3 separate regions of the Homo sapiens genome follow, and all the other regions are linked to region 2. Evidence: fine-mapped expression QTL. A gene starts in region 2. Each other region holds a variant in brackets. All regions are shown on one strand. Distances are between the middles of the regions.

Region 1 (2,751 bases), 30 kb after region 2:
CGTGGAAGGTCTGGCCTCAGGCTGCACCCCTCAACTCCCTTCCCGTCCCCAGTTAACGCTTTCTTGTGGCCACCTTGGGCAAGTCGTGGCCACCAGAAGGGGTGCTGCCTGCAGGTGCACGCTCTTACACACACACACACACACGCCGGCCCCTTTCTGCCCACGCAGGCTCCGAGGATAAGGGCAGCATGGAGATCGTGATCCTTGTCGGTACCGGCGTCATCGCTGTCTTCTTCTGGGTCCTCCTCCTCCTCATCTTCTGTAACATGAGGAGGGTGAGTGTCCCTCCCCGCTCCTGATGGAGTCTCTCTCAGGCCTTCCCCACCCTGGCCGCCCCTAAGATAAAGAATAAGGTGCCCGCCCTAGTTCACCTGGCAGCCTTGTTTCCTGGGAAGCCTCCCTGCCCTTCACGCTGGGCTCCAACCCCGCAGAGGTTGTCTGTCTTTTTTTCTGTCCCCTCCTTGACTGAGAACCCCGCAGGAAGTGCCATCTGTCCTGGGCAAAGTTCTGCCCAAGCCACAGTGGTATGGCCAAATCAGTGAGCTGCCCCACTCCTCCCTGTCCCCTCCCCGCAGCCGGCCCACGCAGACATCAAGACGGGCTACCTGTCCATCATCATGGACCCCGGGGAGGTGCCTCTGGAGGAGCAATGCGAATACCTGTCCTACGATGCCAGCCAGTGGGAATTCCCCCGAGAGCGGCTGCACCTGGGTGAGGCCAGCACCAGCCTGCCCAACCCACACCTCCTGCCCGACCCACCTGCTGCAGGCCGGAGTGCCTGAATCCCTCCATTTTCAAAACTTGCACCAGGAAGTTCCGCCTGGCCTGACCTGTCCCTGTGGGCGTGGGTACCTAGAACCTCAGCCAGGGTCCCCAGTTCCCAGGCTCCCTGAGGTCACCTGCTGCCACCCTGAGCAGGGTGTATCTGTCACACCTACCCGGGAGGATGCGCGGCCTCCTGTCCACCTCTCCTTGTCTTCCCGCTGTGGCTCCCCACGCTCCTCCTGCTGCCAGGCCTGTCCTCCTGGACCTCTGCACGGGGCTCCCCCGCCGCCCACCTGTCTCCACGCTCACCCCGTACAGCTCACCTGCAACTGGCCCCCTGCCCCGACAGGGAGAGTGCTCGGCTACGGCGCCTTCGGGAAGGTGGTGGAAGCCTCCGCTTTCGGCATCCACAAGGGCAGCAGCTGTGACACCGTGGCCGTGAAAATGCTGAAAGGTGTGGGGTCAGCGGGCGGAAGGGGCAGCCTAGCTGGTGAGGAGCAGCAGCTCGGGGTGGGCCGGTGGGACGGCAACTCGGGAAGGGAGACTGAGGCTGGAAGCCAGTCTCATCCGAGATTCTACAGGGAGGCTGCGGGCTTCAGAGCCGAGGGACCACCCGAACCCCCT[CTG/G]CCTCAGTGGGGCCGGCAGGATGTCCTGGGGGCCCTTAGTAACCCTCCCCCTCCCAAAAGCGCCGGGTGGCGGGGAACGGGGACCTGCCAGGGTCGGGGCCGGTGTGAGGCCCGTGTCCCCTCCAGAGGGCGCCACGGCCAGCGAGCACCGCGCGCTGATGTCGGAGCTCAAGATCCTCATTCACATCGGCAACCACCTCAACGTGGTCAACCTCCTCGGGGCGTGCACCAAGCCGCAGGGTACGGAGCGGGCGGCCCGCTGGGACGGCGAGACCCCGGGCGCGGGGCGCCGCGGGCGGGAGGGGGCGCGGGTGCAAACGCGGAGCGCGCCCGCAGCGCGCCCCGGGTTCCGAACGCACGGCCGCCGCCCGGTCCCGCCGCAGGCCCCCTCATGGTGATCGTGGAGTTCTGCAAGTACGGCAACCTCTCCAACTTCCTGCGCGCCAAGCGGGACGCCTTCAGCCCCTGCGCGGTGAGCGGGCGGCCTGCGGGGCGCCGCGGGCGGCGGGGGAATGGAGGCGCCTCTGCGGCGGACGACTGGGCGCCCTCGAGCCAGCTTCGTGCATCCGCAGGAGAAGTCTCCCGAGCAGCGCGGACGCTTCCGCGCCATGGTGGAGCTCGCCAGGCTGGATCGGAGGCGGCCGGGGAGCAGCGACAGGGTCCTCTTCGCGCGGTTCTCGAAGACCGAGGGCGGAGCGAGGCGGGCTTCTCCAGACCAAGAAGGTGAGAGCCTGGCCTCTTCCCTTTTCCTAGTGCCTGACGGGCCCGGTTATATCCCGTGATCAGGCACCCCAGCCTGGGGTCCTCAGCGGGGGCTTTCATGGGAGAGTGTGGAATGGGCTCTGCCTTAGGAAGGGAAGACACCTCGGGGACAATTTTCACACAGATGTTTTACGATTGACTGGGTCATCAGAGGCTGAATAGGAAATTGCCCTGCAGACAAGGCAGGCAGTGGAGGGCCAAGCAGCAGGTGCCCGGCCCCCACAGAGCAACAGTATTTACTGCTCTGGGAGTAGGACGTGGGTGTCCCAGAGGCTGAGGGGCAGGAGAGGGTCCTCTGGAGTAGGACGTGGGTGTCCCAGAGGCTGAGGAGCAGGAGAGGGTGCTCTGGAGTAGGATGTGGGTGTCCCAGAGGCTGAGGGGCAGGAGAGGGTGCTCTGGGAGTAGGACGTGGGTGTCCCAGAGGCTGAGGGGCAGGAGAGGGTGCTCTGGAGTAGGACGTGGGTGTCCCAGAGGCTGAGGGGCAGGAGAGGGTGCTCTGGGAGTAGGACGTGGGTGTCCCAGAGGCTGAGGGGCAGGAGAGGGTGCTCTGGAATAGGATGTGGGTGTCCCAGAGGCTGAGGGGCAGGAGAGGGTGCTC
Region 2 (2,751 bases):
GTGCAGTGAGATCGTCCCACTGCACTCCAGCCTGGGCAACAAAAGAGAGACTTTGAGAAAAAAAAAAAAAAGTACATTCTGAAAAAAAAAGCAAAACATATATTTTGATGATAAAATGATAAACAAAAGCAGGGAAATGATAATGCCAGGGTAGTGGGCATCTTCTGGGGTTGGTGAGGGGTTTGTGATGGGAAGTGAGGGGATGTGGGGATGTCATTCTACATCCCTTGGCCTGGAGAATGGAAACACAGGTATTTGTTGCTTTAAAATTCAGGTTTATAATATGCTGATATATTATGTACTTTCCATAAGTGTGTTACATCTCATAATCTTTCAAAGCTAAAAAAAATCAATATATGATTGATAAATACCTAACTTCATGTATCGCTTGGTTACCTAGTTTCCCCAACCTTATTTGTTAAATTATCTACACTATCCGCACTGATTTGTGATTCCAGCTTAATAATATAGCCACTTCTTACCTGGATTGGAGAGAGCTGGTAGTGGTTATTGAAAATCTACTCTTGCTTTTTGGCGAGGATGAAAGGGCTTTGGGGGGCGGGGGTGGGGGGATGGAAAATGTGAATGAAACGAAAAGCAGGGAAGGAGGTTGAGACAGTCATGGTCATGGGCTTCATTATTAAACAGGAAAATTCTAGAGACAAACTGAAAAGAGAACGGAAGTCTGTAAGAGGGTTGCCAAGTCAGAAAGCAAAAGCAAAGTGTCGCTTTATTAAAAAGGTGGGGGCGGGTCCTGATTGAGCTGAGAACAAAACATCTGGGGGAGTTCTAAAGCTAGGAGGCCAGGCCTGCAGGGAGGGGGTCGGTCATCCCGGGTGTCCCGCTCACGGGTGCGGCTTCCGTCGACACTGTCCGTCGACACTGTGCAGGTAAACACTGCTGAACGGGTTTTGTTTTTGCTTTTTTTTTTTTTTTTTTGGCTCCCAGACTGGAGTGCAGTGGCGCGATCTCGGCTCACTGCAACCTCCTTCTCCCGGGTTCAAGCGATTCTCCTGCCTCAGCCCCCCCGAGAAGCTGGGATTACAGGCGCGCACAACCAAGCTCGGCGTATTATTTTATTTATTTGCTTGTTTATTTTTGAGACTGGGTCTCCCTATGTTACGCCGGCTGGTGCCACTATTTTCAAAGATGTAACATACTATTTTTACAAGGATTGCTTTCTTGTTTAGTCTAGATTTTACCGATGGAAAGAAAGGACGGAAAAGAGCGCGTGCCGCATTTTGCTCCCCTTTGCCCACCAGGCTCCATCACCTCCGGAGCGCATCGCGAGACCGTCTGCGTTACCCGCGTCCCCGCGCCCGGAGCCGCCCAGGAGGGGGCCCGGACCCTGTGGTGCGGAGCGCGCACTGCTCGGGTGCACCGGACGCCCCGCGGCGGGCTGGGAGGGACGGGGGGAGGGGGGCGCGGGGAGCGGCCTGAATCCCGGGCCCGCCTCCGGCCCCCGCCCCGCCCCGCCCCGCCCCAGGCCAGCCGGCGCCCGCGCGGACACTTTCAGCCCCGAGCCGCGGCCGCTCGGGTCGGACCCACGCGCAGCGGCCGGAGATGCAGCGGGGCGCCGCGCTGTGCCTGCGACTGTGGCTCTGCCTGGGACTCCTGGACGGTGAGCGCGGCGAACGGGCCACCCGCCCGAGCGTGGGGCTGGCCGGGGAGGGGGTACCGCGCACCTGGGGCGGGCGCTGAGACCGCTCCGCCGGGTACGGGCGGGGGACACGGTGGCCCTGGTGCGCGGACGCCTGAGGGGAGCACGGCGCTTGGGGCGCGGGACCTCGGGATGAGGAAGGGGCGGGCGGGGACCGCAGCCGGGTCAGGGCCAGGGCGGCCGGGCCGCGCCTCGGCGCAGGGGTAGCTCTCCCGGCCCCTGAATCCGCGTCTCCGTCGGTGGCTCCGCGTCCTCGGAGCCGGGCCCTGCCGGGCTGCGCGCTGAGCCCGGATCCTTCGCGCCCTTACTCGCTTCCCCGCGGGGTCCCCGCGCCGCGCCGTCCCGACCCACGCGCGCCGGAGATCCATCCCGGCCGGGCCCCGGACTTGGGTGCGCACTTCCCGACGCCCAGCGCCTCCGCTCGCGGTCGGTCCCCCAGAGGGCGCTCGAGGCGGGCTTCCCCCTCCCCGTGGCCGGCGACGGCGGGGACAGGGGCCGGGGACCACCGCGCGCCCGAGGCGGACGGGTGCAGGTGCACGCTGGCACTTGAGACGAATCTTGAGGAGGCGAATCGCGGGCTGTCAGCGCCGCAGAAGGGGCGGAAGGCCAGGGGTCCCCGGATTTGAGGGGACAGGGGCCTCGAAGGCCAGCTGAGGAGCAGAGGCCCCCGCGGGAGGGTCCCCTGCACAGGAGAGGCGGGGTTCGGTTTGTGTTGGGATGTGGCTCTGGCGGGGAGAGACGCAGACCTGAAGCGGAGGCGGAGGGGTTGGAAAGAGGGACTGTGGGGGATGAGCGGGCGGCAGAGGGAGTGGATGGAGATGTCAGGGAGGAAGCTGAGAAGATGAGCTGGGAGTCCCCACGGAGCTGGTGTCCCTGGAAATCAAAGGGTGTAAGGGCGGGGTCAGGGGTTCCAGTGTCTGAAGCCCTGAAGTCAGCGACGGGGACCTCAACATTTCTGCACGCCATAGGAATTAAATACTGGCTTTACATGCTTGTAATTCTCACAGGGAGTGTCAGACCCATTTTACACATGGAGAAGCTTAGACCAAGGACATGTGTCACTTCCCCAAGGTCCCCAGGAGGCCCAAAGT
Region 3 (2,751 bases), 36 kb after region 2:
TGCAGTTACAAAAACCTCCCTTATGCCGTAAGCTGGGAAGAGAGGGGAGTGGGGGTGCTGGGGTGGAGGTAGAGGCCAGTCCAGAAGGGCCCTGGCCCTCAGGGCTCCCAGGTAGAGACCATGAGAGGGAGAGAGACAGCCGGCGGCGGAGATGCCTCAGGAGCCCAGGAGGAGGGTGTCAGGAGTGATGGCCCGGCTTCCAGGGTGGGGACAGTGAGTGGACAGAGCGTGCTTGTCAGGGGAGATGGTGAGAGTGTGCAGGGGTGCGTTTCATCAGGAGGCTGCGCTGGAGGTCTAGGGCTGGAGGAAGGTGTACAGTCTACCCCGATACCCCTCCCCTGAGAGCTGGGAGGGAGAGGGGCCCAGACAGACCCAGGAGAACAGCAGCAGGGAGATACCTTCAACCCAGGCAGAGGACCCTGTTAGGGGGTGCCAGAGCATCTGGCCTCAGCCCTCTCTTCCCATCCACCACGGGACACGCTTCCCTCCGTCTCCCCATCCACCGCAGGACACGCTTCCCTCCGTCTCCCCATCCACCACGGGACACGCTTCCCTCCGTCTCCCCATCCACCACGGGACAAGCTTCCCTCTGTCTCCCCAGGCCCGGCTGCCCCTGAAGTGGATGGCCCCTGAAAGCATCTTCGACAAGGTGTACACCACGCAGAGTGACGTGTGGTCCTTTGGGGTGCTTCTCTGGGAGATCTTCTCTCTGGGTGAGTGCAGGATGGGGTGCCGGTGGGGAGAGGAGGCGAGGTCACTGGCGGCAGGTTACATGACCGCCCCTGCTGGAGTAAGGGACTGGGCACCTGGAGGTGTGTGCCAGGTCGTTCTGAAGCAGGTGGTTTGTGGGCCACCAAGGGCCCCCCACCTCTCCCCAGCCTGGCCCAGCCTCCGAGAGGACTTTGCCTCCAACGTGGGCCACCCTCTGTGGGGTGCACATTGAAGCCTGAGCCAGGACTGAGCCTTTTCACATGGCAGCCCCAGAGGGAGCTCAGTGCCCAGTCAGCAGACGTGCCTACTCCAAGAGCTCCAAGAGCTCCATGTGGGAACTCAGGCCCCGCTGCGAGCATGATGAAGTCTCCAGGCCAGGGTAGGGCAGTGAACTTGAAAAAGTTAAAATGTCACCAAGTGGCAACTGATCCAC[G/A]CTACTGCGGAAACTAAAGGAGCAGGAAGAGTGTAGGAGGCGTGGGAGCTCGGGTAAGCCAGAGGGGCCCAAGGAGGGAGTTCAGCAGTCCAGGACGGGGAGCAGCAGGGGTTGGGAGGAGCAGCAGGGGTTGGGGGGAGCAGCAGGGGTTGGGGGGAGCAGCAGGAGAAGCAGCGAGAAGCAAGAGAGGCTTTGTTGAAACTGCCTGCAGGCGGCTCCCCCGCCGCTGATGATCCAGTAACCATGATGTCTACCGTGTCGCCAGTGGGTGGATGCTCTTGGCACCCCTAGCAAGCAGGCGGCACAGTCCTCTTTTAACCAAATGAACTAGAGCTGGGGAGGGCAGCGACTTGCCCACAGGTCCCAGGTAGAGCACAGTCGGGTGAGCCATCTCCACCCCACCACGGATGGGGAAAGGGACAGGACGGGGTGACTTGATGGGGAAGGGACAGGATGGGGTGACTTGGGGGGCTGGGCTGAGCCGCAGGAGGCTTGCTCCCCACCCACCTCCCCTTCCTGTTGTCAGGGGCCTCCCCGTACCCTGGGGTGCAGATCAATGAGGAGTTCTGCCAGCGGCTGAGAGACGGCACAAGGATGAGGGCCCCGGAGCTGGCCACTCCCGCCATGTGAGCCTCCCCATGGCCCTGCAGGTTTTGGGGACAGCAAGCGTCGGGGGCGTGGGGGTTGTGTCCATGAGAAGGTGGCATCAGGGAAGCCAGGGCCAGTAGGACAGGCCTGGGCACCACCCTCAAGATACACGGGTAGTCTGTAGCACAGCTGCACCAGGAGGACACCAGGAGGGAAGGCCGGGCGCTGTCGGAACAGAGCCGAGTGTTCAGGGAAAGCATCACCAGGAGGGGACGCTGGGCTAACACTTGAAGGAGGAACGAGGGTAGCTGGACAAGAGTGGGAGACGTGTCAGGAGGAGGGCAGAGTGGGTGAGAGGGCCCAGGAAGGCTGGGGCACTGAAGGTCCTGGGACGGGGGTGGGGTGCATGCAGTCCAGCAGCCCACGTGATCCTGCAGACGCCGCATCATGCTGAACTGCTGGTCCGGAGACCCCAAGGCGAGACCTGCATTCTCGGAGCTGGTGGAGATCCTGGGGGACCTGCTCCAGGGCAGGGGCCTGCAAGTGAGCCCCTTCCCCACCCTGTTCTACTATGGCCTTTGGCCCCTGCCCTGGGTCCCTGGCCCGAGCTGCCCCTCCAAGCCCATCTAGGCTCTGCCCACCTCTCAGCTGCTAGGCTAGGGTGGTGGGGTCCTGGGCCCCTATCCACACCTCGTCCCCACACCCTTGCATCTTTCTGTTGAGTACACACCCGCTGCACAGCTCCACTGCCTGCTCCAGGTGCTGTGTGGATAGTCAGAGCCTGTCCCTGCGCGAGGGGAATCCTAGGCTGGTCCCCCCCGGCCTGTGAGGCAGCCCCATCTCCCTGGCATCGTCATGATGTATTCCTTCACCTGGTGCCAGTTCTGTCCCCCACTCCACTGAACACACGGACCCTTGACCTGTGTGTGCTGACATCTCTCCCTCCCCACGTGGTGCTCCTCCAGGGTGGGGGATGGAGCCGGCTTGTGACCCAGCTCAAGGTGGGGCCTGGAGCAAGA

Alleles and levels. Positions count from the first base shown, and alleles are read on the strand shown. Sizes are in standard deviations (SD) of each study's normalised expression.
For the expression in skeletal muscle of the gene that starts at base 1,509 in region 2, CTG is the low allele of the variant in region 1 and G is the other (small effect, 0.20 SD a copy in GTEx).
For the expression in caudate of the gene that starts at base 1,509 in region 2, allele A in region 3 goes with a lower level than allele G (large effect, 0.95 SD a copy in GTEx).

What was found. PIP is the estimated chance that this variant, and not a neighbour inherited with it, causes the effect.
Region 1: its variant is the best candidate, but not a certain one, in a credible set for the expression of FLT4 in skeletal muscle (GTEx, PIP 0.51).
Region 3: its variant is the best candidate, but not a certain one, in a credible set for the expression of FLT4 in caudate (GTEx, PIP 0.51).

The regions. Positions count from the first base shown.
Region 1 is chr5:180,618,133-180,620,883 of GRCh38, reverse strand. FLT4 (fms related receptor tyrosine kinase 4) reads left to right here. Exons shown (of 30, transcript NM_182925.5): 15 at 1-8; 16 at 169-275; 17 at 576-711; 18 at 1,115-1,219; 19 at 1,518-1,631; 20 at 1,775-1,863; 21 at 1,964-2,114. Among named protein-coding and RNA genes, the nearest start is that of SCGB3A1, 28 kb to the right of the region's middle. RefSeq lists an enhancer at 1-1,053. The variant CTG/G (reference allele first, on the strand shown) is at 1,390.
Region 2 is chr5:180,648,358-180,651,108 of GRCh38, reverse strand. FLT4 (fms related receptor tyrosine kinase 4) reads left to right here and starts at 1,509. Exons shown (of 30, transcript NM_182925.5): 1 at 1,509-1,621. The coding sequence starts at 1,564.
Region 3 is chr5:180,612,030-180,614,780 of GRCh38, reverse strand. FLT4 (fms related receptor tyrosine kinase 4) reads left to right here. Exons shown (of 30, transcript NM_182925.5): 24 at 602-713; 25 at 1,671-1,770; 26 at 2,170-2,275. Among named protein-coding and RNA genes, the nearest start is that of SCGB3A1, 22 kb to the right of the region's middle. The variant G/A (reference allele first, on the strand shown) is at 1,145.